Linked DNA regions of Homo sapiens: all the other regions are reported to be linked to region 6. The links are microRNA targets in miRTarBase. Many come from high-throughput screens and were not tested one by one. Region 6 holds a microRNA gene; each other region holds the end of a gene's coding sequence.

What was found. The annotated mature microRNA hsa-let-7b-5p reads UGAGGUAGUAGGUUGUGUGGUU and lies in region 6 at 2,873-2,894, shown strand. An mRNA with a match to its seed (bases 2 to 7 or 8) in the 3' UTR can be bound and repressed. Matches are read on the target gene's strand: a 7mer-m8 pairs with bases 2 to 8, a 7mer-A1 pairs with bases 2 to 7 and ends in A, and an 8mer does both.
Region 1: miRTarBase lists FSTL1 as a target of hsa-let-7b-5p. The part of its 3' UTR that is shown has no 7-base or 8-base seed match.
Region 2: the mRNA of MIOS is a reported target of hsa-let-7b-5p. Seed matches in the 3' UTR shown: 7mer-A1 at 3,459-3,465.
Region 3: the mRNA of GEMIN5 is a reported target of hsa-let-7b-5p. The part of its 3' UTR that is shown has no 7-base or 8-base seed match.
Region 4: the mRNA of GDF11 is a reported target of hsa-let-7b-5p. The part of its 3' UTR that is shown has no 7-base or 8-base seed match.
Region 5: the mRNA of TAB2 is a reported target of hsa-let-7b-5p. Seed matches in the 3' UTR shown: 7mer-A1 at 3,897-3,903.
Region 7: the mRNA of WLS is a reported target of hsa-let-7b-5p. The part of its 3' UTR that is shown has no 7-base or 8-base seed match.

What each region holds. Positions count from the first base shown.
Region 1 is chr3:120,393,245-120,397,587 of GRCh38, forward strand. It overlaps FSTL1 (follistatin like 1), which reads right to left. Exons shown (of 11, transcript NM_007085.5): 11 at 1-3,752. The coding sequence ends at 3,708. MIR198 (microRNA 198) reads right to left here and starts at 2,485; the gene lies at 2,424-2,485. It also overlaps the pseudogene BTNL12P.
Region 2 is chr7:7,606,286-7,610,628 of GRCh38, reverse strand. It overlaps MIOS (meiosis regulator for oocyte development), which reads right to left. Exons shown (of 13, transcript NM_019005.4): 13 at 1,697-3,633. The coding sequence ends at 3,537. Among named protein-coding and RNA genes, the nearest start is that of UMAD1, 32 kb to the left of the region's middle.
Region 3 is chr5:154,884,245-154,888,587 of GRCh38, forward strand. It overlaps GEMIN5 (gem nuclear organelle associated protein 5), which reads right to left. Exons shown (of 28, transcript NM_015465.5): 28 at 3,167-4,133. The coding sequence ends at 3,966. Among named protein-coding and RNA genes, the nearest start is that of CNOT8, 28 kb to the left of the region's middle.
Region 4 is chr12:55,749,032-55,753,374 of GRCh38, forward strand. GDF11 (growth differentiation factor 11) reads left to right here. Exons shown (of 3, transcript NM_005811.5): 3 at 471-4,343. The coding sequence ends at 851. It also overlaps a transcript of SARNP not described here. Among named protein-coding and RNA genes, the nearest start is that of GDF11, 8.1 kb to the left of the region's middle.
Region 5 is chr6:149,409,442-149,413,781 of GRCh38, reverse strand. It overlaps TAB2 (TGF-beta activated kinase 1 (MAP3K7) binding protein 2), which reads right to left. Exons shown (of 7, transcript NM_001292034.3): 7 at 2,175-4,205. The coding sequence ends at 4,063. Among named protein-coding and RNA genes, the nearest start is that of SUMO4, 11 kb to the right of the region's middle.
Region 6 is chr22:46,110,819-46,115,095 of GRCh38, forward strand. MIRLET7B (microRNA let-7b) reads left to right here and starts at 2,868; the gene lies at 2,868-2,950. LOC124905135 (collagen alpha-1(III) chain-like) reads left to right here. Exons shown (of 2, transcript XM_047441696.1): 2 at 1-3,110. MIRLET7BHG (MIRLET7B host gene) reads left to right here. Exons shown (of 5, transcript NR_110479.1): 5 at 1-3,110. It overlaps MIRLET7A3 (microRNA let-7a-3), which reads left to right and starts at 1,931; the gene lies at 1,931-2,004. It also overlaps MIR4763. RefSeq lists an enhancer at 1-492.
Region 7 is chr1:68,122,707-68,126,706 of GRCh38, forward strand. It overlaps WLS (Wnt ligand secretion mediator), which reads right to left. Exons shown (of 12, transcript NM_024911.7): 12 at 2,654-3,629. The coding sequence ends at 3,520. All of the region lies in intron 8 of GNG12-AS1 (GNG12, DIRAS3 and WLS antisense RNA 1), which reads left to right. Among named protein-coding and RNA genes, the nearest start is that of MIR1262, 59 kb to the right of the region's middle.

The sequences.
Region 1 (4,343 bases), not on the chromosome of region 6:
AGTGATCCAGCTATAATTTTAGGAAAGCAAAACTTCCACATGACTGAACCGAAGAAACCTTAAACCTCATTGACTATAATATGCTCTTTTGGGAGGCAGAATTATTGTGGGTGGAGAGTGCATGATACATATGAAAATGGCAGGTTGGAAAGCGTTAGTCATGTGTCCCCAAGCAAAAGAGGTTTTAACCAGCTAACGTTCAGCCCACTTGGAACTGTTTACCCCCATGGAATGTGTGTATCAAGGAAGTGCCATTAAGGTTATTTAGCCTGTCCCTGGCAATGATTCCATGTTCCCTGTACTACCTTCCCATGTTTATTTGCCTTCTCACAGGCTACTGCAGTCAGCCTCACTGGATGCCATTTAGTCTCCTAAATCATATGGGGGATTTACGAGTCATTTAATTTAATGTCTTCCCAATACAGGAATGCACCTGCTATGGTTTGAATGTTTATGTCCCCCAAAATTCATATGTTAAAATTGAATCCCCAAAGCAATGGTATTGAGAGGTGAGGCTCTTGGGAGATGATTAGGTCATCAAAGTTTAACCCTCATGAATGGGTAAGTGCCCTTATAAAAGAGGCCTAAGGGAGTTTGTTCACCCTTTTCACCATGTGGGGATGCATCAAAAAGGTGCATTCTTTGAAGCAGGCAAGCTTCAACAAGCCGTCATCAGACACTGAATCTGCTGGTACCTTGATCTTAGGCTTCCCAGCCTTCAGAACTGTGAGCAATACATTTCTGTTGCCTATAATTACCCAGTCTGAGGCATTTTGTTATAGCAACTTGAAGGGACTAAGACACTTTCTGACTTGTCATCACCTTCTACTCCAGACCCACTATCCATGATCCTTTCAAAGAAACTTGTTCTACCAGTCCCCGAGTAAACTTTCCATCCAAGCTGTAGTCCCAGGAGAAACTCTTCAGTCCTTTTTAAGGCTCCTGAAACTCAAATCCACTCTTAGGAAGTAAATGGGTAATGTTCTCACGACTTTATTTGGCCTTAATTGGGGGAAAGGAAACCAATAAAACCATCACTTTAATTTCTTTATTCATCAATAGTATCCGAAAAGGAAGAATCAGGAGTTACAAAAACAAGTTAAATGCAATATAGAAGCCTACTAAATACAAATACAAGTTCACAAACACATATGCAACAGAAACTTGTTTAGATTGTTTCTTGAAGTTTGACTACTTAAAAACATAGGTGTAAAGGAAAGACATTCAGACTGGTCCACGTGGGCTTGTTAGCAGGCAGAGGAACCCTGCTTTCCAAAAACTGATATAGTCCAGAGTCACGGCATGTGGGAATGTTTCCATGGACACTGGATCTTAACAGATGCTATAGTGTTTACAAAACTACACACACAGAGAAAGCCCAAGGAAGCCTGCAGGCTAAGCCCTATGCTTTTAGAGGGCTGAAGGAACCAAACCTAGTTTAATCCTGTTTGTTTGCTCCATGCAAAACTTTATGGAAGACTCCCCAGACTAGGCTATTTAGCAGCTTCCATGAATGGTCCTCAGATCATGTGATTCTACGGCATAGACGACAGCTGCCCTATTTACACAGAAGCTGCAGAACTCAAGAGGAATGTGGATTTGCTCTTGGGAGTTCAATGTTGCAGGGTAGAGTAGTCTTGGATGATAACCATGTTCTAAATGACTAGTGAAGAGACACTGTGGTTTCTTGCTTTTAACAAATTGGTGTACTCTTGCCCTCCTCCCATAGTGTCCAAGGGCTGGTAAAACCTTTGATTAAGGCGTGCTGCTGTGAGTTCTCCAAGGCACTTGGACAGGGAGCTGCATTTCAGACTGAACAAGTGGAGTTTGAAGAGTTTTTAGATGGGATGGATACATAAAAGCTTGAAATGCTAAACAAAGTGGAATTTTCTCCTTTCAAATGAGAACAAGAAAAACTAGAAGGAATTCTATTTTTGGCACAACAGTTTCTCACAGTTGCCTGTGCATTACAACCTAAATAATTTCCTTCTGATGGTCTTTAATCTGCTTTCTGCAAATGAGATCTTATGTCAAGGATTTAATCTTTGGTATTCCAAATGCATCTGAAACAGGGTAGTGAGTGGGGTTAATAATCACAGAAGTCGAAAGACACAGGACTAACTGTAAATGACTGACCTCCCCAAGTCACAGTTTTAGGATTAAATCTCCATTTTCTTCCCCCTGTTGAATCTGAAACTTTCTTTTATCCTCATCTCTAAGGGAATGCTTTCTATTTCCAGCCGGAGGTTAAACATGAAATGCAAATATGAAGACAGAGTGGGGTGGTTCTCTTTCCCACTCTCTTCCTGCTTTACCCATGAGGACTCCATATCATAGCACGACCTGTAGGGTCATCAGGCTGAGATCAAATCTGGTCATCTTGTTTTTGGCCATCTGACATTTCTTGTTCTAGTAACAAGATTTCATTTATTCTATAGAGAAGAAGGAAAAATCACAGGAACCTATCTCCCCTCTGGACCAATGATCAGAACCACAGAATTTATAACTTATCAAATCAAAAGGTTAGTGCATTCTTACCAGCTCACTGAGGAAACTGAGGTCCAGAAAAAAGAAGAGACAGGGCCAACTCACCCTCCTAGTTAGTCGAATGAGCATATTGGTAGGCTGGGATATCCTAAGCCCTGCTTGGCTGCCCTTGTCGCCATCCTTGGGAATACTGATTTGCCTCAACTTCTCAGAATAAATAAAAACAAATTAATGTTTGGATCTTGAAAGTTTTTTATGAAGATGCTTCTTCCCCTGGCTTCGGTCTAAGGCACCCTTGCTCCTCTGGCAGATAGTGGACTGCTGGAAGCTAGGGGGGCCAACTATGGGCTGCATCTAGTATGTGGCAGGGTGGGGGCATCTGGGTTATTTCAGCCCCTGCACCAGGAAGAACCCCAAACTCCTTCCACCTATGAAGTGGTGGGACTACTGAAAAATAATTACAAAAGCTTAATACCTAGTCAAGAAAATAAAATATTAAAAAACAATAATATAATGATAATAATTGAAGAATAAAGTCAACTTGCCAAAAAAAAGTGTTTTACAGAGAAATAGCACCTTTGGTAAAAAGTATTTTTAAAATTTGGTTAGGTCGCTAAGGGGCTCAAAGTATACAAGTATCTGCATCATTTGGGTGTACCCTCCCAGAAACTCCATCCAAGTCTGAGGGACACTGGGTTAACTAGCAGTATGGCTATGTATCTAGAGGCAGTTATTGGGACCAAGAGATGCGTGGATGCTGGAGGTCTGTCATGCTGACGGCAATGGAAAGAGGCTGGAAGCAGAGAGCGTTCCTCTCCGTGGAGCTTCCCAAACCTCTCCTCCGGGGACACCCTGCTAAGTTCTCTCTGGCATCGTGTGCACTCCCTGCAGCCTGCTGACAGATGCAGTAAACTCAAAAGAGGTTCAGATTTGGGTCTGTTCCTCTTTCAATCGTGATGCAGTTTCCTTACTAGCCTCCAGCCCCAGAGCACCATTTACAGTTTCTCTTAAAGCACTCCTAGAAATGAAGGCTGTGGCCCTTCCCTTCCTAGCCAGCCACCTTCATATCCTTTATTGCAAAACAAATAAACAAAATAAAACTCATTGCTATATAAGCAAATACTGGTGATTTGGCGACTGTAGCAGACACTTGTGTATACTGAACTCAGCGCTGAAGTGGAGAAGATGCTGGGATCCAGACACTGGTCTGTGCCTCCTCATTAGATCTCTTTGGTGCTCACTCTCTTGGTCTTTTCAGCTGTTTCCTTTGAGATGCAAGAGAAAATAGGCGTCATGGAAATATTAAACAACTGTTGGAATTTATCTGTTCCTCAAGACTATATAGCATTGGCATTTACAAGCTTATGCTGAATTTTAGTTGTTTACTTGTCGGGCTCCTCCACGGACAATGAACAATTTGAGAACAAGAACTATGGCCTATTCATGACATGGTCATGCAGGGGCTGTTTACTGAATTAAGCTGACTCCATTTGGACTCCTATGAAACAAGCAGATCAGACATTATGGTTCCCATTTTAAGGATGAAGAAAATGATGTTAAATGGAAATGCTACAAGATGTTCTTAATCCAACAAGTCCAAAGAAGTGTTAAGTACAACAGGTTCTGGAGGCAGACTGCCTGAGCTTCAACCATGGCTGTGCTACTTTTTGGGTGACCTTGGGCATATTATGAAATCTTCTGTGTCTCAATGTCTTCAACTGCAAAACCACAGTAATAAAGTACCATCTCTTACAACAGTGCCTGGCACAAAATGGCCAATAAGGACATAAGAAGATGCTCAACATCATTAATCACACGGGAAATGCAAATCAAAACCACTTGACACCCGCTAGGAC
Region 2 (4,343 bases), not on the chromosome of region 6:
TTTACTTGTGACTTTATCATGTTAAAGTTGTGTTAATTTGATATCTGGGTTGTTAGCTTTTAAAAACCTTGGGAAGCTTTCCTTCTGTCGCTGTACTCTGGGAAAAGTAGTATTTTATAAAAATTAATATATTTGTAAAGTGCTACTTGTTATAATCAACAAAGTAACCTACAACATTTTCAGGTAGGAGAGAAAACTGGCAGATGATGTAATGGAAGGAGTGAGTAGTGGACAGGGGAGCTGCTATCTAACAAGGCCTGTTTCTGTCATTGTGATGTGGGTCACTAGACTTGATACAAGATATTGACCCAAATATGTGCCTCCTACCTCTCTGATGCCTGTCTGAGCAGATGTCAGAAATTGTGCCCACTAGCTTTAATTACGGCTATTCCGGGACAGCAAGTCTCACAGTATACTTTTGAAATTATCACTACCACCCCAACATTATAATTTAAATGAACATCAAGTGTAATAGAATGGCAGAAAAAGAAAAAGTACACAGAATAATCCTGGATACTTTCTCCAAGTATCCAGATTAGGGAGTTCAATTTAAACGTAGTTAAATTAAGAGTTTAGACATAAAACTTAAAGTTTTCAATAGTCAGTTGTTAAATTTGCCATAATTTTTTCCTCTGGGTTCATTTTTATATCACATTTAACTCTTAGGAGGTCATTTGGAGGATTTTTGCATGCAGCAAAAACAGTAATACTATAAATTTATCCAAATTATGGCATTTTTCTTTTGAGACAGGACTTAGCTACTTTTGTTTACCCTATATTTGGAGTATAACTATTATTGGGAATTTTCACTCTTTTTAAGAAAATCTATTTCAGCTAACTCACACCAAGGAAATTTTCATTCTTGAGACAAATGTAGATTCGTTAAAATTATAAGTATTCATTATACTTATAATTTTAACTATAATTAAAATTATACTATAAGTATTCATTGAAAAAGTACTGATACATGAGCAATCTATGAAAATGAAGGTAACAATGACTGCTAATCACTACCATTTATAGAGCACCATGTGACAGGGATATGGCACTTCATGTTTATTGCATCACCTAATACTCCCACACTCTGAGGTAGGTATTTCTGTATCTTTCTTTTAACATATGAAGAAACTGAAGCTCAAAAAGGTCAAGTCACTTACCGAAGATCCCGAGGCTAGGATTATAATTTATGTTTCAAAGACCATGCTTTAACTACTTGCAGTCAAATGAATGACTGAAATTGAGTCATCTAATTAAATGAAGAACTACATTCTTTTAAATACTTACTATGTGAAGCATTGACAATGGGAAGCTACTTTTAAAATATACCATTTTAAAGGATAATAACTATTCTGGAAAGTGGGTTGAATTGAAAAACAGAGCCTAAAAGGAATGTTACTTCTAATATTAAGTATGAAGTCTGTCATCAAAAAAAGCACCAATATTACTTCACGTGGATTATTTGTAAAGGAATCATAATTTCTTGATTAGATACAATGACTTCAACCCAGATTTATTCAATCTTTTAAAAATAATAAAAACACTTTTAATAAACACATCTATTGATCATGTTTAGGTAAAGTATCTTGTTGAGTTTATAAACCCAAATACCAGTGACTTAGTGATAAAAATGAGAAAATAATTTGATTGTCCATGCACACTGAAATGCAAAACAGACACCAGAGACATAAACTGCATGTTTGGGCTTCACAGAAAACATTTAAGAGGTTGACACATACATACAATCTTAAAAATGTCACCCTCATATATTAGGATTACAAATAAGCATATTACATAATAGACTTTACATTCATGTTTTATACTGTATTTCCAAAACTTGTAACTATTTGAGATAATTTTACATTTTACTTTAGCTAATGAGAATGAAAATGCATATGAGTCTGACATTACTTAAAGCTGACTTTCATATTTAAGACAGTAAGTTTGAAAGGAACACTTCAAATGAAATATTAAAGGTAAAGGGTATATGTTAATAAAATGAAATCAATTAAGATTTACTCAAATGAAGGCTGGAAAAAGTACCCTTAATAGCAATCTTTAAAAAAAAATTGCAATTACCATGTCTTTCATTTGAAAAGACTGTCATGCAGGTGAGACATTTAGAGTAAATATGTACTACTTCCAATGTTTTCCTAGAAAAGGGTTTTATGTATCAGACACTCAAGGTAAAAAATAAATTTAATCTACTTTTAATATTTAGGTTACACCTCAAACTAATCTGACAAATCTTAGTTTTTATAAGGCAAAACTGCTAATACGAAAGCTCTTAAAATTCTTGTTTTATTTCTCCAAAATCTATAAAATAAGATTTACTCTTTATGAACACAGCTTCAACTACAAAATTCCTAGTTCAGTCCCTCTGCATATGGCAGATGACAGAGAAGCATCTTGTAAATTCTTTGTATTTCTCTTACAACTATCTAGCTATGAAATGAGAAAAAAAAATGTTTTAAATAAAGTACCTGACTTAGCCCCAGTAACACTTACATTTAAAAACTTACATCTAAAATGGTCTCTGAAGTGACCCCATTTCCCCAACACTTCCTAGTCTACCTTGGAAAGAACAAGGTATGGTATTCCAAATCAGGACGGAATTTGACAGCACAGAAACACTGACATAGATTATACTAAATGGCTAGTTACATATAATCTTGCATAGACTTTGTATGCAGTAAAATGTTCTCAGGTGATGAGGATAAGATGACAAATTAATATGGAGAAAAACCTTTGAAGACAAATCAGGACATTGGAAGGCAAAAGGTAGAAAGTGAAAATTTTGTATGTTCACCTGAAATGGTACATGTTTTTCTCTACTGAAGAGAAAAAGTTGTAAGATAGATTCTTCATCTTGGCTTTTCTAGGAAGACGATAATGTTATGCCAAAAGATTGCTTATCTTAAAATCAAAGGAGGGAAAAGGCTCCTTTAAAAAATACATATTTATACATACACACATAAATATACACACACACATAGACACATATATAACAGACAGTAATAAAAAATATTCTCCAGTGTGGGATAGGGGCTCTGCAATTCTAAAAGTAAAAATCTGTAATTTTAAATTAATCTGAAAGAAATCTAAGCACAGCTGAACTTAAAACTATTGTCTGAATCACAGAATTAGTCATTTTATTTTAAAAGTGCACATATTTTATTGAAAGATATCCAGTTTCAGCTTTGAAGATATAGGCTCAAAGTCTGTTCTTGGCTCTTCCAGAAATTCTGCTTCTAGAGTGTTCATAATTTCAACCAAAACTTAGAAAGTTTTTCTAAATCAGACTTTTCAACCTGCTGAACAGAACTCATGTCTATACTTCGATGTTTATTTTGGCAGCATTTGTCTCTGTGAAGCATATCAAAATCACTCAAACATCAAAACTGCTGATCTGATAGAATGATTTATTTTCCCATTACAGGTAAGTCATGAATGGCTTGTTCTGAGGTATGTTTCTGAGCTATGAAGGACACCTACTAGAAAGCTCCACACTTGAAGGGTTCTCTTAAGGTGGTAACATTTTATGGCTGGACAGTCTCTGCAGGTACCAGATTCCCTGTTGTATCCAACTGCATACATTTACACGTGCATGCCGACACAGGGCACTCTGCATGGTCCCTAAAAAAATAGGTCAAATAACAGTTAAAAATCCAAATTAGACAGACATACATTTATTTATTTATTTATTTTTTAAGAGACAGGGTCTCCCTATATTTCCCAGGCTGTACGCACACTTTTGGGCTCAAGTGATCCTCCTGCCTCAGCCTCCTGAGTAGCTGGGACTACAGGTGTGCACCACTGTGCCCACCTGTTTACTTATATCTATCTATAATGCAACTTTTCAAAATGGCATTTGGAAAAATATAGAAACTAAAACCCAGAGAAAAAAAGCATCAAAAGCATCAAATTATAAACTACTGCCAAGCTGAAGTTTAGGGAGAAGTTAAGAAACACATACCTTTTACTTTCTACATATATGGCAAGATATTTCATTTATAGTTGTGAAGGTGACAGGGATGTGCTCAGAGTTTAAATTAGCTAGTAAGACAAACTGGGTATAAATGCTGTATCAACCAGGAGCACAGGGCCACTGGCACCATTCAAAATGAAATTCAAATATGTCTTGACAGTCTTAATTGCGTGACTACATAAAAAGCTTACTTAGAAGAGAACTGAGGCAGAGGTATGATATGCTCTTTTAACATTTCATTAGTAATTCAATTGCATGGTAAATTACAGAATATTCAGTGTAAAAACTGTAAACATATCCTCTCCCCGAATAAAGTTAAATAATGTTATTCAAACATTTAACTCATACAAAACATTTA
Region 3 (4,343 bases), not on the chromosome of region 6:
TTGTTAACCCTTCTCCGTCTCCTACCAACTCACCTCCCCCACGCCCACCAAATCAAACCATTTTTCGTTTCTTACCTAATAATAAAAAAATAGCCATAGTAGAAGTCATGGACCTAAAGCAAACCTTAGCCATAGAAACCAGATATCAAGATGTTAATGCCTGGCTGGAATGGATTAAATATTCCATTCACACCCTAAATAAAAGCGATTGTTACCCTTGTGCAACAGGTAAGCCAGAAACCCAAATTGTTCCCTTTCCACTCGGATGGACCTCCAACCAACAGGGCTTGAGCTGTATGGTAGCTCTCTTCCAAAACCCCACAGCCCGGGGGAATAAGGCATGCTAAACTCTCGCTGCTATTTCTGGAAGTTAAAGGCCCTGTAGGTCAGCCCGAGGGCCTCCGATTAACAATGTAAATTTTACGTGTCTCACGACAGGGGGAAAATTTGGCATTCCTTGGAAGCCTAATGGGATGTAGTGAGTCCAAGCCTTTTCAGGAGCTAACCAATAAGTCTGCCCTTGTTCATCCCTGAGCATCTGGATTTATGGTGGTATTGTGGTGGGCCACTATTGGGTACTCTGCCAAGTAACTGGAGGGACACTTGCACTCTAATCCAATTGGCCATCCCTTTCACCCTGGCATTTCACCAACCAAACAAAAAGAACAATTGTTAAGAGAAGTCCCCCTTACATGTCCTTTGACCCTCACATTTATATAGATGCCATTGGAGTTCCATGAGGGGTGCCAAATGAGTTTAAAACCCAAAATCAAATACCTGCAGGATTTGAATCTATATTGCTCTCATGGGTAACTGCAAACAAAAATGTAGACTGGATAAATTACATTAACTATAATCAACAATGGTTTGCTAATTATACTAGGGATTCCATTAAAGGAATAGCTGAACAATTAGGCCCTACCAGCCTAATGGCCTGGGAAATTGAATAGCCCTGGACATGGTATTAGCTGAGAAGGGTGGGGTCCATATCATGATTGGAGTCTAATGGTGTACTTTTATCCCCAACAACACAGCCCCGGATGGAACAATTACAAAAGCCCTAGCAAATGAATTGGCCAAAAATTCTGGAGTAAATGACCCCTTCTCTAATCTCATGGAAAAATGGTTTGGCAAATGGAAGGGACTCATAACCTCAATCTTTACCCCCCTTGCAATTGTTATAGGTGTACTTATTCTTGTAGGTTGCTGCATTATACCCTGTATTCATGGATTAGTGCAAAGACTCATAGAAAAAGCTCTCACCAAAACCCCTCTTGCTTCTCCCCCACCCTACTCAGATAAGCTCCTATTCCTGAGTGACTAAGAGGAACAATAAAGTCAAGATATGTTAAGGAGACTTGACGAGGAAGAACTACCAAGTCAAGAGGGGGAAATTTGCCAAACCATCAGTTCCTCTTCAAACTTCCTTGTTCCTTTTAGCAACTAATGTCCTTTCACATTGCTAGAAAGGATAAATTCTTGTTCTCTAAACAAGACTTTCCATCTTTGCTGTGCCTAAACATGCCCAAATATGCCTTAATGGACAATCCCTCCCTCCCAACCTTTCTTTACAAGTTACGTGTTTAAAGGTTTCAGTTTACCCTATTTGGAAAAGTTTTACCACTCCTACCCCTTCTTCCCTGTCTACCCTATTTGGAAAAATTTCAAGTTTTAGCCAATCAGGTTAGCTTAAATTGTGTGGTCCGACTCCAGCCAATGGGAAAAGGATACAGAAACAGAAGCTGCATTAGGGATAAAAACCTTTCTCTCCTTTGTTCAGTGTGCTCTTGTGATTGTGACTGGTGCAGGCAGCAGCACCCTTCTGCGGACGTAAATTTGCCTTGCTGAGAAGTCTTTTGTTTGAGTGCTCATTTTCTTTGTGACTCTGAGCTCTTATTTCCAACACTGGGATTACAGACATGTGCCACCATGCCCAGCTAATTTTTGTATTTTTAGTAGAGATGGGTTTTCTCCATATTGGCCAGGCTGGTTTCGAACTCCTGACCTCAGGTGATCCGCCTGCCTTGGCCTCCCAAAGTGCTAGGATTACAGGTGTGAGCCACTGTGCCTGGCCATAATTCATTTTAAAAAGTTTATTCATTACTTATAGAGATGGGAGCTTGCTATGTTGCACAGGCTGGCCCTGAACTCCTGGCCTCAAGCAATCCTCCCACCTCAACCTCCACAGTATCCAGAGTACAGGCGTGCACCATAGCACCAGGCAACTGAGTGCAATTCAGCCCCTCCATATATACTGCCAAATGTTGGTCTCAAATATATACTGCCTCCATATATACTGCCCAGCTGGTCTCAAACTCCTGTCCTCAAGTGATTCACTTGCCTTGGTTTCCCAAAGTGTTGGGATTACAAGCATGAGCTACCATGCCTGGACTCAAATAGATAATCTTGTTCTTACCAAAGCAGTAACTGAGGAGTGTGCAGGACTCCTCCACCCACAGGTGATGCTTCTGACAGATCACAAAGGAATTTAGAATTCTAGTTTAACAATATCACTCTTTACTCAAGTGGAAGGGAGTATATATTTTTTCCACCTCTGTAAGTAAAGTTCATTTTAGCAGTTGGTAGAACTGGTGTCCTACCAACTAGGCTAGGTTTTCTACCTAGCCATGCCTATTTATGTCTTTGCAATCAAGAAAGATTCTCCATCCCTGGTAACAAAGCATCGTCTTCCTAAAGTTCACTTCACTGTATGAAGAACTGTGAGGATCTAAATTCTACAGTATTTCCCTTTGTGAGTTTATTAAACTCTAATGCTAGGCACATACACGTCTTTGAAAACTGCCTCAAACTTTCTCCTTCCTGGGACTTCCTGTAAATGAATTTCATTCTCACTGTCCCAACAGCTCCAATCCTAGGAATTAATTGAAAAATAAACTACAAACGTGAGCAGAAAAGCCTTCACAATGAATCCTAGAGAAAACAGTTCAATTATCTGAAAGGAGTGTTCCTTCCTACACCCATGCCAGACTCTGATTTTCCCATGCTAGCAACTGTGACATTACAGAAACATCTGTTCCTGACACTGTTCAACTGTTTAAATAACCAAGGAGGAGAAAAAAAAGATTTATAATTAAATAGTATTTAGGGTCCCAATAGTCAGAGTCCAATAATCCAAAGGTCATCTATGCAAAATTAGGAATATGCATTTTTCTCCAAAGAGTATCTTTGGCTTTAATCTGATTCTCAAAAGGATCCTATGATCCAAGAAAGTTTAAGAACCATTGAAACAGTAATTTATTCCTGAGCTATTTGACTGCCATCAATCCATTTGTTATAAAACTGAAGGGAAAACACACATTTGAATCACTTCTTCTAAAGCTTTAGTAAGTGATCTGTTCAAATAAGCAATTACATGAAAGAATAAAACCAAATTTCCAACCTAAAATTCTGACAGGAGAGTCAACATGATGGTTAAGGCCTATTTCATATTCAAACTTCAGTCTATGAAAGAGTAGAGAGAGAAGGGTCTCCTCTTTCAAATTAAATATTATAAAAACAATTAAAAAAAGGTATCAATAGTCCTAAAATGCAGCAACTCCATCTCAAACAAGCATGACACACTTCTGATCAGATGAAGTATTTACAAAGGTAGCTTGTGTTTTAAGCATGTAACACTTTGGGTGACGACAGAAGTTTCTCCTCTTTGGGTGAAACCTGCCTAAGGCTGTAGAGATGACCAACACTCTGCAGGTGTTAGTTCTGAATAACTACTGTGGGCTTTTCATGATCTTCCCTCCAGTAGGAGACCACAATTGAGTCTAAAGTCAGATCCACCGTTGTCTATGGGTAGGCAGGGTTGATTCAAACTTAATCCTTGTTTGTATTCTTTTGGATTACTGCAAAAACATCTAGGGACCAGAGTGAATGTCTGGTGAGGCATAACTGCAGAGGTGAAAGATGTCAAACATTTTCAATTTGGCAGTTTCTTCAAGGTGTGTGAAAATTCACATACAGAAGGTCTGGCAGTGTCTTCTGTAAGTTTTCGTGTTGCCGTATTTCTGAAGGAGCTCTTGGGCCTGCTGCTGCATTTCCTGGGCCAGACAGCCAGGAAAGTGGGACCTGATGAGAAGCAGGACGAGGCAGCACTCCAGCACATCTGGGAAGGGCCAGGCCTGAAAGACGATGACATGAGGATGAATAAGGAAGCATTTGCAGAAGAGCCACAAACACCTGCACAGAAGGCACCAGTCACTCAGGTTCATCTATAGACACTTCTTGGACACAGCTGAGCCAGCTGTCTCCTAAGGCAATGTCCTGTCTTTCTCTTCAACAGTTACTCCAAGGAGAAATGACACTCAAAACTAGGATGGCTACTGCGATGT
Region 4 (4,343 bases), not on the chromosome of region 6:
AGATAGGGTTACATTGGAAAAGGTAGACAAGGAATGTGAAGGAGGTTGGGGACCAGCATTACTTCTCTGGGGTCAGCAGCTGATTCTAGAGGAGGAGGTGAGGAGTGGGGTGGCAACTATTACTTCTCAAGGATCCAAATCAGACAACAGCTGAAAACTGGATTTGAAGGTAAAGGTGTCAGTTAATGGAAGAGCTGTGAGAACAAAAAAACTGGCTGTTGAGGCGTTGGGCCAAGGGGCTGACAGGGATCAGGTTGCCAGAAGAGTAAGAATTAGAGATGGTGAGTTGAAGGAGAGCTAGCTAGCTGGCAAGAAAAGTGGGCAAAAGATAAATTCTGGGGGTGGGAGCAATGGAAAAGCTGAGAAGTCAGCAGTCTCTATTCTGATGCCCCTGGCAGGTGGGAAAGGAACAGGGAAGAGGAACTGTTCAGGACCATATCACATTTCTTTCCCCTCTCCCTGACCCTCAGCATCCATTCATGGAGCTTCGAGTCCTAGAGAACACAAAACGTTCCCGGCGGAACCTGGGTCTGGACTGCGACGAGCACTCAAGCGAGTCCCGCTGCTGCCGATATCCCCTCACAGTGGACTTTGAGGCTTTCGGCTGGGACTGGATCATCGCACCTAAGCGCTACAAGGCCAACTACTGCTCCGGCCAGTGCGAGTACATGTTCATGCAAAAATATCCGCATACCCATTTGGTGCAGCAGGCCAATCCAAGAGGCTCTGCTGGGCCCTGTTGTACCCCCACCAAGATGTCCCCAATCAACATGCTCTACTTCAATGACAAGCAGCAGATTATCTACGGCAAGATCCCTGGCATGGTGGTGGATCGCTGTGGCTGCTCTTAAGGTGGGGGATAGAGGATGCCTCCCCCACAGACCCTACCCCAAGACCCCTAGCCCTGCCCCCATCCCCCCAAGCCCTAGAGCTCCCTCCACTCTTCCCGCGAACATCACACCGTTCCCCGACCAAGCCGTGTGCAATACAACAGAGGGAGGCAGGTGGGAATTGAGGGTGAGGGGTTTGGGGGAAAGGGGAAGCAGGGGCATAGTCAGGGTGGGGAGTGTTTGAAGTTTGCAGATGAGAAGGTTTGACAAAAAGACAGAGAGATGTAGAGACAGTGATAGAGACAGAGGAACAAAAAGAGCAGCAGTGAGAAGGCAAAGAGAGAGGCAGAAGAGACAGACGAGGCAGAGACAAAACACTGAGAAAGAGACTGAAATGGAGTAATAAATGAAAGCCCCACACCAAGCCTCCTTTCTTCCACTGGCAAGGTGAGGGGCTTGGTATAGTTTGGGGAGATCCCCTGACTATTCAGTAGGAGAAGAAATCAAAAATCCATTCTTTTCTCCTTCTCTCCCTCCAACAGTGGCCAGGGGAAGGGGAAGTGAGGGCAGGGGCAAAAAGATTTGGGAATTTTTATTTATTTATTTATTGTGACTTTTCATTTTTTTGGTATTTGGCTTTACTGGAATAGGAGGGCCCCTGCCCACTGTGCCCCGTTTATCCCTTATTCCCCAAACCCTGCTCTCCCCAACACCTACTCACTTAAGCACTTGTATAAAGCCTCCAGGGTTGGGAATGGGAGTAAAGGGCAAGAGGGCGGACACATGAAGTTTAGTTTCTAACCCATCATCACCCTAACTCAACCTTTTCTGAGCCAAATGGCTTGAATTGAAGCCAGTTGTCATGGAAATAGTAAGAGGTTAGGGTTTAAGAGCTGGGGATGCGGGGGTGGGAGAGAGAACCCTCAACATCCAGGATCTATATAATGAGAGCTACTTTAAACCCTCAGGTCCACCCTCATGATGCTGAGTTATTTAGCCAGAGGGTGCAGCCTGCTTATGCCCAAATTCCCTCAGCCAAGAGAGAGACCAAAGAGCCTCTGGAATGGCCCTGCTCCCAGCCTCTATCTTCAGGTCAATTAGAGAGAGTATAGAGACCCCAGAGTCCCCTGGGTCTGGAAAGCGTTAGGAGAGGTCAAGAAAGGAGCAGTAAGGAGGCTGAAGGTTACAGGGCATTTGAATCCAAATCACTGCTCTGGGCTAGGGAATAGAGCCAGCAGACCAAGGTGGGAAGGATTCTGGAAGGGGGACATTTTAGTCTCCTAACCCCAAAGCTCAGGGTGGAAGAGGGGAGAACAAGGAAGCAGAGTGTATAATTATTTTTTCCTTTTATTTTTGGAATCTAACAGTACCTGGCAGCAGGGAGGGGAAAGTACAGTGGGGAAAAGCATCTGACAAGGCCAGTTAGAACAGAGGATGGGAAGGATGGAGACTCCCGGGCTTGGAAGGCTAGGAAGCAGGCAGAGACTGGTTGCCATTTCAAGTCACTAGCTAGGCCCATTCATTCCTCCCACAACCCTGACCCATTCTCCTCTGGACTCACTGTGCCTCAGTTTCTTCCCCTCAATGGAATGAGAAATGACAGCACCCGCCACAGCCAAGAGATGAATTCTGAGCACTTACCACGGGCACTTTATGGACATAAAATACCTCTCGCTGTGGGACAGATAACCAGGGCACCAGAGTAGTGGTGAAGAGATGTGAGGCTTAAGAGGAGTCACAGGCTTCAGAGTACAAGTTCCCCTCTGCCTCCCAGCTGGACAGTGCCTAGAAGCCAAGGAGTTGAGAATCTCCTGATCCACACCCTATCCTTACTTCACCACCAGGCCTCTTGGCTCCAGGCAAGAGCTTAGAGGATGTCAGGAGAGGTGGGGGTAAGAATCTTCAGCAAAACTGTCACTCTAAGTAGAGCCAGCAGTTACGGGTCTGATAAAAACAGTACTGAACTAAAGTAAAGCCCAAGCTGGTGAGCAAAACTGGATGGCTCATTCTTCCCAAGAGCATGACTCTCCCCCTTGGCCAGTTGGTGGAAGGGGCAAAGGTATGTGACCACCCTTGAGAAGGTGATGTTGGTGAGCTTTAACATCTTATTCCTATTCTTATAGTGAGAAAGTGAAACAAGATCTTTCAGTAGAGGAATGGGCAGGGCTGTTAGGCTCTTCAGCTTGCCTTCACCCATATAGCAGCTATGCTAACCCCAAGCCTCTCTGGCCCTGTTCTTCATCCTTCCTTCTGCCCCAATCCTGAAGGACAAGACACACCCGGCCATCAACACCACTCACATTTCCTTGGTGGAAGGAAAGGAACAGAGAAGTGAAGAACAGATACCTCCCTCCAAGGTCAAATGCCTCGTGATCTTGGCAGAGTAGGGATTGGGCAATAAGCATCAGGTATCTTCCCTCTACAGATTCTAGAGAGCTGGGGCATTAAATATGGGGGACACTTAGAATACAGCTCCTTAAATACCACCAAATAAAGACCTTTGTGTGTGTGTGGTGGGTGGGGGGGGGGCAGGGGTCTTTCTCTTATGAACATAAATCTGTGAGCTGAAGTCTCATTCCCCTGTTCCTCCCTACCCCCAAAGAGGCACAGAGTGAAGGGACTTGGGGGGCACAGCTCAGCAACCCAGTGGGAGTTAGCACCCCCTCCCACCTTATGATGTGTGTGGACCTGGCCAGTGCCCCTCTGAACATATCATTATTAGTGTAATTATCATTTATTTTGTGTATTTGTCACATTGTGTGCATGACAGCCTTTGTTAAGGGTGTCTGAGGAGTATGGAGCTGACAGGGGCATTGGAATGCCAGGAAAGAACTTCTTCAACTGAGATCAAGGCTTCCTGGAGGGAACCACTGCAAAAAGGCCATCAGGCAGTTTTCAAGTTATGTGACAGAGGGCAAAGACGGCCATAGGGTGCTCTGAGTTTTGGGATGGTCACATGACACAATCCAGCACTTGAACCTGAAAAAAAAAATAAAAGCGGTCAAAGAGTTTAGAATTCAGTGCTGAGCTCTTCTCCCTAATCAAGTGCCACATTTACACCTTGGAGAACCGGAGGTGAAGAGGATCTGAGACAGGAAACCTCGTGTTCAATGACTAAGAAGATGGGGTCCTGGAGCAAGACAGAAAACACTAAGGGCATGGTGGTATAAGGTTTGGGACATGCAGGCCAAGGAAGGATGGAAAGAGGACAGGAAACTGGGGGTACCTAGAACAACCCCTCTCTGAAAAGCTTGAGCCAAAACAGTCCCAAAGACAACAAGACCCCTCTCCCAGCCTCCACAGAATGGAAGATCTAAAGGTTCTCTTGAGATGATCCAGCTAGTATGGAAGATCTAAAGGTTCTCTTGAGATGATCCAGCTAGTGTCCTATTCTCCTGCAGTCCCTGTTCCTAGGTTTCCTCAACGAAGTTTGACAAAAATCTAAACCAACATAGCCAACGAACTTGCCTTGTTACACAAGAGTGGCTAAAATAGCATCTCAAATATTCTTTC
Region 5 (4,340 bases), not on the chromosome of region 6:
TCACATTAATCCTTACAACACCCCTGTGAGGTGAGTTTAGCATTAATCTAATCACCTTCGTTCGACAAGGAGAGGCAATATAAACAAGGAACTGTCCCAGGATTACAGAGTAAATCTAATGAAGACATCTGAAATCACAGCATTTTGGGAGGCTGTGAGCCGATCACTTGAGGTTGGGAGTTCAATGCCAGCCTGGCCAACGTGGCGAAACCGTCTCTACTAAAAATACAAAAAAAATTAGCCAGGCGTGATGGCGTGTGCCTGTAAACTCAGCTACTGGGGAGGCTGAGGCAGGAGAATCACTTGAACCTGGGAGGCGGAGGTTGCAGTGAGCCGAGATTGCTCCACTGGACTACAGCCTGGGTGATAGAGTGAGACTCTGTGTCACACACACACACACCACAAAAAATAAATAAATAAATAAATAAATAATAAAGTTGAGAGGTCATAACAAATACAAAAACTCACTACAAAATTGTTTTCTTAGGCCTTTTCTCTCAGTTGTCTAATTGTATTTTCAGATGGAAGCAATACAAATTAAAATGCAGCTGAGCCATTTCAAGTAAAATGGATATAAAATTGTAGCACCAAAAAAGCTGAAGCCAAAAATATATTCATTTGCCATACAGGAATAGAAGTACTTTGTGATGTTATATGGGAAGCTATGCCGATATCCAGCATATAGATATTAAATCTGGAGTAGTCTCTAGTGTCACTACATTATTTTCTACGGCAATATGGCCTACTTCCATTACTCATGGGCTGAATATTTTATTTTATTTTATTTTATTTTTTTGAGACAGAGTCGTGCTCTGTTGCCCAGGCTGGAGTGCAGTGGTGCGATCTTGGCTCACTGCAACCTATACCTCCTGAATTCAAGTGATTCTCATGGCTCAGCCTCCAGAGGATCTGGGACTACAGGCATGTGCTGCCACGCCCGGCTAATTTTTGTATTTTTAGTAGATGGGGTTTCCCCATGTTGGCCAGGCTGGTCTCAAACTCCTGGCCTCAAGTGATCCACCCACCTTGGCCTCCCAAAGTGCTGGGATTACAGGTGTGAGCCACTGTGCCCAGTCTGAATATTTTATCTTATACTGTTTACCTCTTAAATCTATCCCTGCTCACTAGAATTGCCTGTCAACATTACATTGGGATAGAGAAAACTGGTGACACGTCAGCTAGTTTTGCTATTTATAGCTGCTTTGATTAAGTAGGTTTAAAGCTAACAATTAGTTTTGGACTACCCATGGAGCTGATTTTCTGCATAATTTCCCCAATATAAAGTTAATTAATATTAGATCAAAGATGACACAGGTTAAACAAGATTTTAAAAGAAAAATAAAATTTCAACTTTTTTCCCTCAAACGCCTGCAATATAACACACATCTTTGTCTAACGTATTAGTTGTCACAGGAGACATTTGGCTGACAATTTGTTAATATAAAAATTTTCCTGAGAAGTCTAGTTTACATGAACTGCCAATTCCTCTACCCCCAAACCCCTTTAAACATACAGATGAAGGATAATTTGTGTCAAAAAAATACTTCGAAGTCCATCTTTCGATTGGAGGTTCTTACACTTGTAATTCTGTTTTAGGGCAATGAAGTTCCCAAAAGTGGTCTCCAGATGCCCAACATGTCCAGTCCTCATATTCACTGGCATTGAGTATTTCCTTTCTACTAAGTTTAAAAGACCACTCAAGGCAGACCTTTCTACAACTGCATCATGGGGAGATCAGCAAATACTACTTTGTTCTTTTCAGGCTGAGAAAAACACCTGAGTTTTTGTAATTTTTTGAAAACTGTAAATATAAAAGTTCTCTTCAAGAGAAGCACCACCATCCTCATGACCTGCATTACACATCAAGGGACAGAACAAATATTAACTAAATGTTTACTTCAGGTTAAATGGTCCAATAAATCACATTTGTCTTTAACAATGCGGTAAATTTTGAAAAATCCAAAGGAAATAAAAGGGAAAACTATCATAAACTATGAAAAAAGAAGTCTAGGGAAATTGATAAAAACAGTCCAAGAAATGCAGCTGAGTATCACAATGTCACAAGGAGACTCTAGAGAAGAAGTTTTCCCTGATTTCCATTAATGCTTAAATGATCTGCTGATGTATAAATTATCTCCTGTCCCACAAACTGAAAACAAGTCACAAAATCCACATTAGAATATAAGTTTTTTAATTTTTATAAATAACTTATCTGTTACAAAGATAGTTTACCCAGCTAAATCACAAAACCATCAACTCAAGATATCCAAATTACGTTTTATTAATAAAACAAGTAAAAACTGATTTATCAATCTTCACATAGAACTGCAGATGAAGCTGAAAAACAAGGCCTATTTTAAAAATAAATTGCATCAAACGTAAGGGCTTTGGGTCTATGGTTTAATTACCTAGGATTGTCATATTTCTTCCCATATACAAAATGCAAAGCCTGAAAGTTAGGGCTCTGACATTCATAGAGATCAACTGTAATAATCCCATTTAAAACACAGCCACTTGCAAACATTTACAGTGGGTGGTAGTCTATATTATCTTCCATCCTTTGCTCTATTTCAGCACTTCCCTTAGCCCCATTCTAAGCACTCATATAATTTCATAATTCTGTCTTTTTAAATGCATACTGTTCTTTTTCTTGATTTCAGTTATATACATTCCTGATCATCTGAATATTTTCCTTACAAAAATATATCATCAAAATAAAGAGATGCTTGAGGTTGCTTCAGTGTTCAAGTTTGCTTGTTTTTTTTTCCAGCTTTTCTTCAGTTGTCCTAAATATGGCTAGCCTTGTTTTATAAATACACATGATACTGTCACCAAGTCAGGATTAGAAATGGACTGCCCCAACAGTAAAGCATTTAAACTTCTCTCCAAAAAAAGGGCTGTAGGTACTGCTGCTGTTGCTGGTTTTGAGACTGTACTTTCCCAATAACAACTGCTTGTGCAAGTTCTGTGGGACACCAAGCAGATGAAGCTTAACCTTGTTGTTCTGTCAGTGGGTTAAAAATATCTTTTGTTTTAAGCTTCCCTGTGGAAGACAAACACTGTGTTGTGTCACCCACTGCTCAAGTCAGTATTTAATGTGACCTACAGACATCACTTCTGTAATATCATCTGCAATTCACTGTGCAGCATCTGCCTGTCTTCACACAACATTGGAACTCATGAGGGCAAAGTACAGAATAAGTAGAGGAAAGTTATTCTGTGCATACTTTCATCTCATTAATGCTTTTTTATTTTAAGGCATTGTTCCTCTCAGGTAAGGCTTAAAAAGGGACATGATCGTGCTTAATTACTAAAAGGAAAAAAGAAAATTAGTTAACAAAAGGCTATTACACTATACATATAGAAATATAAGAAAATAATCAAGAAGAAAAGAAATCACTTAAAGCAGACTCGAGAGATCTGTACAGTAGGAAAAGCTTTGGGGTATTTCGCTGCACATTTGTACAGACAATGCATGCTGCTTTCCTTTGCATCTTTAGCCCCTAGATGCTGGCTTCACAGAGTGGAGACACGTTCAGGGAAGACAAAGACAAGGCCAAGAGTACCACAGATTTCTGAAGTTCTTCCCTATCCAATGGCACTATGCGGCAGCAAATGGTTCTTAAATAGTTAAACCTTGTTCCTTTTCTTCGTGTATGTAGTGTTTCACTGAAAGCTTTACAAATAAAACAAGCTATCATTCTATTCCTTCCTCCTGTCAAAATTCAGTAGTGACATGAGGGGAAAAAGGTATTGGGAACACCTAGGTGTTAACATATTGAGAATTATCCATAATGGGACACTGGTAACACTGTACACAGTTAGGCAGTGGGCAACCAAGTCTTTCAGCAGATTACTTTTCATGTGATGAATTTCAACTGCTCATGACATTATACTGAGGTATTATTAGCTCTGTGGGCTGACATTTAACATTAGCAGAACACCATCTTGTCACACCTTCAATTTGACAAAATCCTATGTAGCAGTGAAACTTTTTCCCGATGACAGACTAGTTTCTTGAACTTTAGATGTGGTTTTAGAGAAGATACAGGGCCATTTGGCTCAGAAATGCCTTGGCATCTCACACTGTTCACAGCGAATTAAGGCTGGATGGTTCAAAAAAGTACAGGCGGTACAATTCCACTGAGCTCCCTCATCATCTTCTGTGTCTTGAGTCTTTGGTGTTTTGATGATGGACCTTTGATCTGTAAGAAAGAAAAAAATTATTTTATAAGTAAAAAATCACAAAGTCTAAAAAATTACAGGCAACTTTAAACACCATTTGTAGTGCACAGCCTGATGCAGCTTGCTCCCCAAATGGGGCATCTAGCTGACACTGA
Region 6 (4,277 bases):
GACCCTCTCATACCGCTTTTGTTCTGAGGCCTTGAGGGAACACGGGGTCTTCGCGACCCCAGGCGAGATGATGCTGGGACAGAGGAGGGTCGGGCTGCATCGGGGCCCTCCTGGTCCCCACTCCTGGGTGAGTCAGCATCTCAGTCTCCAGTTCTGGGTGGGCGGCACCAGGTGTGAGCCTCAGCGGTCTCCTTGCTGGCTAAGGACCTGGGATTTGCTCCAGTGCCCCTCGGGAGGGAGTAGGACACGTGCCCAGAGAGCAAGCAGACCCCCTCCCCGACCAACTTCTGAGAGCAAAGACACCTAGAGCTAGAGATTCAGCACCCCCTGAGCCTCAGTTTCTCCACTATGAAGTGGGATCCGTGATCTCAGCCTTACCAGGGCTGTGAGGATTAAATGGTCCAGCCCAGCCTGGGGCCTGCCTGGAGTAGGCAGCCTGCTCAGGATGGGCTGTGGAAGGAGGGCTGGGGTAGACCTTTCAAGTCCACTTGGGCATGGGGAGCTGAGAGCTAGCATGCCGTTTAACTTGGCAGGAAGCAGGCCGGGCGCAGTGGCTCATGCCTGTAATCCCAGCACTTTGGGAGGCTGAGGCGGGCGGATCACGAGGTCAGGAGATCAACACCATCCTGGCTAACACGGTGAAACCCCCTGTCTACTAAAAATACAAAAAATCAGCCGGGCGTAGTGGCGGGCGCCTGTAGTCCCAGCTACTCGGGAGGCTGAGGCAGGAGAATGGCGTGAACCCAGGAGGCGGAGCTTGCAGTGAGCCGAGATCGCGCCACTGCACTCCAGCCTGGGGGACAGAGTGAGACTCCATCTCAAAAAAAAAAAAAAAAAAAAAAAAAAAAGCTTGGCAGGGAGCAGGACATTTGGACCTCACTCTGCTGCCCCCTTGGCTGTGTGACATCCAGGTCACGTTGCCTCTCTGGGCCTCGGTCTCCTCACCTGTTTAAGAGGGGTTGACAGTCGTATCTGCCCCCTCAGCTTTTCCCCAGGAAGGTGGTAGCCACAATTAGCATTTGTTGAGGCTGACCCTGCACCAGGCCCAGGATAGGCGGGGCTTAGGGAGGCCCGTCTCTCGCCACGTTCCCCTGCTAGGGGAGCCCCGAGGCCCTCTCAGTGTCATCCTCATGCTACACTCTGTCCCAGCCCTGTGCGTCCCAAGCTAGGGCACTGAGTGTGCCAGCACCCGCAGGGACAGGCACTGGACCCTGGGTGGACCTGAGGGTCTGTGACTACCCCCCCAGCTGCTCTCCCCTAGAGGCCACTTCCCTCAAGGAAGGAAAGAACCTTCCCGCCACCTCCTGCAGTGCGGTCAGCTCAGGCCAGCCTGCACAGCAGGGCCAGAACCAGGGCCCCTGGGGAGGGATGCCTGCCTGCCCAGTGGGAGGAGACGGCACGCCCGTGAAGCCGCTACTCAGCCAGCCTGGGGGCCACGAGTGCTGCTTCTGGTGGCGCTGTGCGGGGAGGGAGGGGGCCGAGCAGGGTGGGCACTCGCATGCCTGTGTCTTGCTGGCCTTCGACAGATGACAGCCCTCCTCCTAGGGTCTCCAGTGCAGAGTTCCTTGGGGACATTATGGCCACTCCTGTCCAGATGAGAGGGAGCCGGCTGCCTGTGACAGCGTCGCAAAATGCCGCCAGGGCTTTCCCTCCCTCCTCCTTTCTCTCTTCCTCGTCCCTCTCTGGTTGGTGGTTTCCTGCAGGCTCCCGTCCCTGCTGGTGCTGGCCACAATGTCCCCACTCCCAGGGTTTCGGCGTCCCAGCCCCCTGCGCCCACCGCGCCTGCCCGCCAGAATCCCTGTGCCCTTGGTGCGTGTGGCCTGCCGAGCCTCGAGCCCCTGTTCTCCTCAGCCCTCTTTCCTCCCGCGTCCCCAGGAGGTGCCTCTGGAAGCCACGGAGTCCCATCGGCACCAAGACCGACTGCCCTTTGGGGTGAGGTAGTAGGTTGTATAGTTTGGGGCTCTGCCCTGCTATGGGATAACTATACAATCTACTGTCTTTCCTGAAGTGGCTGTAATATCTGCGGTGGACAGAGCGTCTGGAACCCTGGCTGGGAGCGGGCAGGGCCAGGTTTGGGGGCAGCCTTGGCAGCAGTCGGGGGCAGGGGCCGCCTACACTGAGAAGTCTGACAGGCCTAGGTGCCACTTGCTGTGTGACCTTGGACAGGCCCCTGATCTCTCTGGGTCTCAGTTTCCTCCTCTGTAAAATGGAGGCAAATGAGGATGGAAGGAGATGCAGTGTGGAGCATCGAGGGCAGAGGAGAGCTGAGCCGACCCCACCCTCTGCCCCAGCCGCACTGAGAGAGGCGATCCACGCAGCTGTTTGTCTGACCTCTGTCTCCCAACACTCCCCAACACTCCCCCCGCCATCAGGCCCAGGCTCATGGGTGGCCCTGAGCCGTACCCTCCACTGAGCACCAGGAGAAGGCACCGTGGGGCCAGGGGTGGCCGAGACGTTTGGAGGTCACAGGGCTGCGAGTATTGGCGTTGCCCATCACCCCAGGTTCCCAGCACGTGCCCCAGCCTGGCCAGCTCAGTGGCAGGGCCTCTGCCTGTGGAGGAAGGGAGGCCAAGGCACCTTTCCTGAGCAGGAAGTGAGAGGAACAGCTCTGCATACACTGGGTCCCACATGGCACAATCTGAAGGCAGACAGTGGCTCCTCTGTACCTGGGGAAACTGAGGCCCAGAGAGCCAGGGACTTCCCAAGACCAGCCAGCAGCAGCTGCCCCTTCCTGGGGTGCCATCTCCCCTGTCCCTCCTGCCCTGCGCCTGCCCAGCCCTCCTGCTCTGGTGACTGAGGACCGCCAGGCAGGGGCTGGTGCTGGGCGGGGGGCGGCGGGCCCTCCCGCAGTGCAAGGCCGGGCCTGGCGGGGTGAGGTAGTAGGTTGTGTGGTTTCAGGGCAGTGATGTTGCCCCTCGGAAGATAACTATACAACCTACTGCCTTCCCTGAGGAGCCCAGTGACACGACCCCATGGGAGGGCCGCCCCCTACCTCAGTGACACGACCCCACGGGAGGGCTGCCCCCCACCTCAGTGACCTGCAGGGGGCCTGAGCCGAAGCTGGGTGGGCATCTGGGAGCTAGATTCAATAAAGCTGTTCTGACCATGAACTTGGAACTGGCCCCTTTCATTCTGGAAGCCCAGGGACTGGGCTCTGGGGCGCGTCTGCTGCGGGACAGTGTGGAGGCCCCTGGCCACGAGCTGTTCCAGGTCATGAGACTTGTCTGCTCACGCCTCCCGGTGCCTCCAGAGTCCTCAGTTGGCTCCGTGCTGTACCCTGGGCTCAGGATCCCAGGCCCAGCCCGTTCTCTGCCCTCTCGTGCTGCCTTTGAGCCAGGCGGGCTGAACACCGGGACCCAGGCCCGGTGGAGAGGTCCCCACGGGGCAGCCACCAAGGCCCCAGGTCAGCAGCTCAGAGCACTGCCAAGTCCTGGCTCCTGAGGCCACCTCCGTGCCTTAAGTGCCTTGACCAAAGTCTGGACGTGCCTGTCCTTCCGTCCTCCCTCAGGACAGTTTCCAGGGCACCCGTAATTCCTCTGACAGACTGCCATCCCAAAAGTGCACCCATTCTCCTGGGAGGCCTCAGGCCCTCGTCTAGCAGCTGCCGTAGGCTGGGCCCAGTGATCCCGCCCTGGGCATGTGGGGTGGGCTTGTTCATGCCTGGCCCAGCACCGAGAGCCCCTGGTGGGGAGGGGCTGATACAGCTGGGCCCACACCTCCCCCACCCAAGTGCCCATCCTCGCCCCTCCTGTTGACCCAGGCCACAATCTTGGCCCAGATTCCCCCCTGTGCCCTCCTGGCCTGCCTTGGTTCTGCAGGCAACCCCAGCCCTGCATGGCCACGTCTGGGCAGACCGGCACCCCTACCCTGACACCCATCTGTGCCAGTCCTGCACGGCAAACACCTCAGAGCCCAGGCCTGCCTACCCTCCCGGAGCTGCTGCCACCCTGTGGGCCAAGGGCAAAGGGACGTGGAGGAGGGGCCCAAGGGCAGGGAGGGCTTCCTAAAGCAGGGACCATCTGAGCTGGGTCTTGACAGCTGCGTAGGAGTTTGCAGCTGGAGATGAGTGACGTGCCCCATGGTCCCTTCTCCCATCATCCTCTGGGGCCAGAGTGGGTGACACATGGGCACTGTCCAAATCCCCTTCTTCACCCCATAATTAGTCAGCAGCCACATCTGGCCACTTCTGTCCTCTAAACACCATTTCCATCCCTCCCCACTCCCACTGCCAGGCCTCAGAGTCTCAGAGCAGCCCCCTCTGTCTCCGGAGCAGATCT
Region 7 (4,000 bases), not on the chromosome of region 6:
CTTACTAAAAGCATTTTCTCACCTCTTGAGTTTCCACTTCTCTTTCCACTGATTGAAATGGGTTGCATCCAACCTGCATTCTTGAAATGGAGACTTCTTTAGTGAAACTCCAACACCCACTACACATCGGTGGAGAAGGCAGAACAGCCAGGGGACATACTGCAACCCCTCTCCTCTGGACCTCAAGTTTCTCCTCCACTGTCTATTTGTTATTTCTCTCCTGTCTCAGGATGAAAGTGTCTTTTCACTCCTTCGATGCTAACTCATCAACTTGTACTCTTGGTCCCAAAACTCTGATTTGGCTTGTGGCTTACATTAGCTCCTCAACATCTTTCCTTCATGGCTGGATCTCACCCTTCAGGTTTACAAACTTAGTTCACTTCCCTGCGGACTAAAAAACACAAGTCTCCATTTTACTCTGGCTCTTCTCGGAGCAACCATTTTACCTCCTTCCTTCCCACCACAATTGCCCACTGACTCTGCTACACTTCTCTGTCTACCTTCTGCCCTTGCCACTTAAGAAGGTTACACACATCCAAACCACCAAATCCAAGAGACTTGGATCCTTAAATGCTGCTGAACCTCTGAGGACATCTAACGTTGTTTCTTTCGTCTTTTTTCCTTATGAATCTGGTTCTTTCTTTGAAACCCCACATTTCTCTGATTTATCCACCTTATCTTCTTCCCCTTTCCTATAGAATATGGCCATGTCTGGCTCACCACTCTTGGTGGTCATCTGCTTGATGTTTTACTGCTCTGCCCAGTTGTCCTTCTTCCTCTCAATGGTGGTGGCTGCCCAATCTGCTGGACCCCTCAGTTCTAATTGTTAGCTCATTTCCTCAAAGAGATGGCTTTTAAAACCTAGCCCAGGCAAACCCAAACTCATCATCTTGCCCACTGTGCTAGATCTTTTCTGATTGTTTGCCCAATTCAAAATGGATTCTCCATTCTTTGGAGATGGACACCGATCTATAAGGTAGGCCCCAAGCAGCCATTTGACCTGACTTCCTGGTCACAGGTGACTGGCACAGGGACAGCCACCTGCCTAAGACTCCTGTTTTTAAGTGAGAGAAACAAGAACTGGATAAAGACTCAGTAGTGAATGGTACTGCTCTGAGAGAAAGGTGCATGGATTCCTGGTGCTAGGGGCCCTTAGAGCTGCCCCACTTCCCATCTTCCTGGTTAATTCAACTCTTCCATGGATCTCTCATATATGCTAGGAAAGTTCTAGTACAGTCTGTCTCTTAGCTAAGCTTGCTAGAGTTGGCTCCTACTTAGAAAACTTTAAGTAGTGAATCCACTGACATTTGTCATCCAAGAATCTCTCTCTCTGTCCGAAACCCCACCCATTCCCTTCCCCAGCGAGGGCTTGAAATTTGACTCTGATCGATCTTTCTGTGCAACCCACATCCAGAACATTCAAACCTTGTGCATTTTATCTCCAAAATAATCCTCTCCTCCAAGTCCTCTGCTACTGTCCTGGTTCCAGTCTCTGTGATCTCTTTTCTGGGCTTGTCCAGCCTCTCCAGGCTCCAGTGATCATTCTGATCGTATCACTTTTCTGCCTAATATCTGAGGCTAAGTCTTGTAACTCTTACCACAGCATTAAAAACCCTTCTCCATCTGGCTCACAGGTGCACAGGGCTCATCATCTGCTATTTCCATTCCTATGTGCCAGCCAGGCCTGATCGCCGACCTTATCCAAACATTGTCCATGCTTTGCATCTTTCTTCTATGATTTTTGTACTGCTGATCCCTTTGCCCGTTGGCTCTGGTAAAATCTTTCTCCTTTAAGGTCTATCTAAAGTCCTTTTCCTAACCCAGGGGATAGAGAAACGTTCCCTCTATCTTCTGGGACAGGAGTTCCCTGCTGGACTGGGAGGCACGGCTCCCTTTGATTCCTGGCACTGCAGTGGTTGATTGGTAAGTGGATATTGAGTGCACAGGATCGTACACCATCCCAATGTCCACCAGGTTAGGAAAAGGCCTAGAGAGAATAGCCAAAGTCAAAGCATTTTCTACTGTCACTGCTTACCACGCTTTAAGCCAAAGTCAGGAAAAGGCAGGCTAGGGGTGCTGAGTGGTGAATTACATGGACTGTGCCCCAGACCTCCAGACCTCAGTGTCTGAAAAACAAGTTACTCATGAAACTGGTTTTAGACTCCAGGAAAAACACATTTATGTGGCTTGCTGTTCATAAAACACTTCCATATATATGAACTGATTGAAATTTTCACTGTGACCCCAGTAAGCAGTTAAAGTTTATCGATATAAGTGAGGAAATAGCCAGGTCAGATGTAAATCACAGACCTTCAACAGGAAACAGTGTTCCTTCTCTCGGCTATCTCCAGTGCAAGTGTTAAAATACAACGAAAAAGGCTATTGGGGAAAGTCTGAATAGGGCAGAGGACGGCTCTGCTTCTAAAGCACGTGATGTTCTCCCCACCTTTGTTGTCACGCATATGAGCATCCCTTGCCAGCCTAGGGAGGCTAACCACACAGGACAGAAAATGTCACTCTTTCTCCAGGAATAGGTATTATCCCCAAACACTTTGATTTGATGATAAAGTATATCAGTTTTTCAGAAACCTATTTCCCCCATCAACTCCCCACCTCTAGGTTCAACCTGGAAAATAATCTGCACGCATGTGTATGAGTTTTAGCAGGAGGGGATATGCATGTACACATATGCATATACATACAGGTTTATTTAAATGATTGGATCTACACTTTTGGAGGCTATTTGAAGTATCTTATCAAAATAAAACGCATTTTAAGCAAGAAGTTAAAAAAGCTTTTCAGACCCGAAGGCCATTTAATACAGTAAATCTTACTTGGGTAGTTTAGCAAACATTTTTTAAAACCCACATCCAACAGATTGGTTAGTATTAGATACACAGATTTGGTTTCAAAGCTGAAATACCCCTGGTGGAATAAATCTTCTCATGAAATTCAGTTATATTATGCCACAAAACAGGGACACTTATCTATTGACAACTTAAATATTAACTCAGTGGGCTACCTGGTGATATAAATAGGAAAAAAACAGTGGTCATGGATTAGGAGTGAGAAGACTATGACACCAGCCTACCTTGGACTGGGACCGCAAAGGATGTTAAAATCTATCCTAGAATTTAAAACAGGAAAAATGTCAAATATTCCACTCCCCATTCGGCCCAAACCATCCCCCAAGGAATACACCCCCACCCCACCCCCACATGAGGTTTACTAACCAGCTGCTACAGATGTTACTATGTCACTAATTAACAATGATCACAGAAAATGTGTCATACCAGAGTTTTTGTTATCATACACAATGCATTAGTGGCTGCAGGAATCTTCCTCCAAAAGCTACCGTCAGAAGGCAAACTGACAAATGTCCATGCCGCTGGTCCAAGAAACCACAGCTAAGAGCCATGAGGCATTCATTTGTACATTGAGCTCTCTCTGGCATGCTCCCCACTCTAGTTAGAGGGGCTGGGGTATGGAGAGACCGTCCCAGCCGGGCGCTGCAGCCTCCTACTCCTGGGCCTCCTTGCGGGTCAACTTGTAGATCTCAGTGGGTCCGTCCACATGGGTGATAGTGGTGGTGAGCTGGAGTTCTTCCCCACTATGGACACCCAGATCGCCTGAAACAGGGTTTTCGGTGTTAGATGCATTCAAGGAGGAAGGAGAAGCAAGCTGGGGTTCATCTCATGGACAACTGCCCTGATGCTAGCCCTCTTTGACATTCTGAGCACACAGAGACACCTAGGGCACACAACATTCAGAACAAGGACTAACTCCAAACCTGTTCACTTGGACTTTGCAGAACTTTTTAAAATACCATTTTTGGCTCCTAGATGACAGTCATTAAGATACGTGAGTCAGCTCACTGCTGATATTATTCATAGTAATCATTAACATTTAATGAGCATTTACTTTGTGCCTGACGCTATTCTAATCACTTTGTAAGTGATCTTCTTTAATCCTCGCAGAAGCCCTCTGAAGTAGGCAGTAT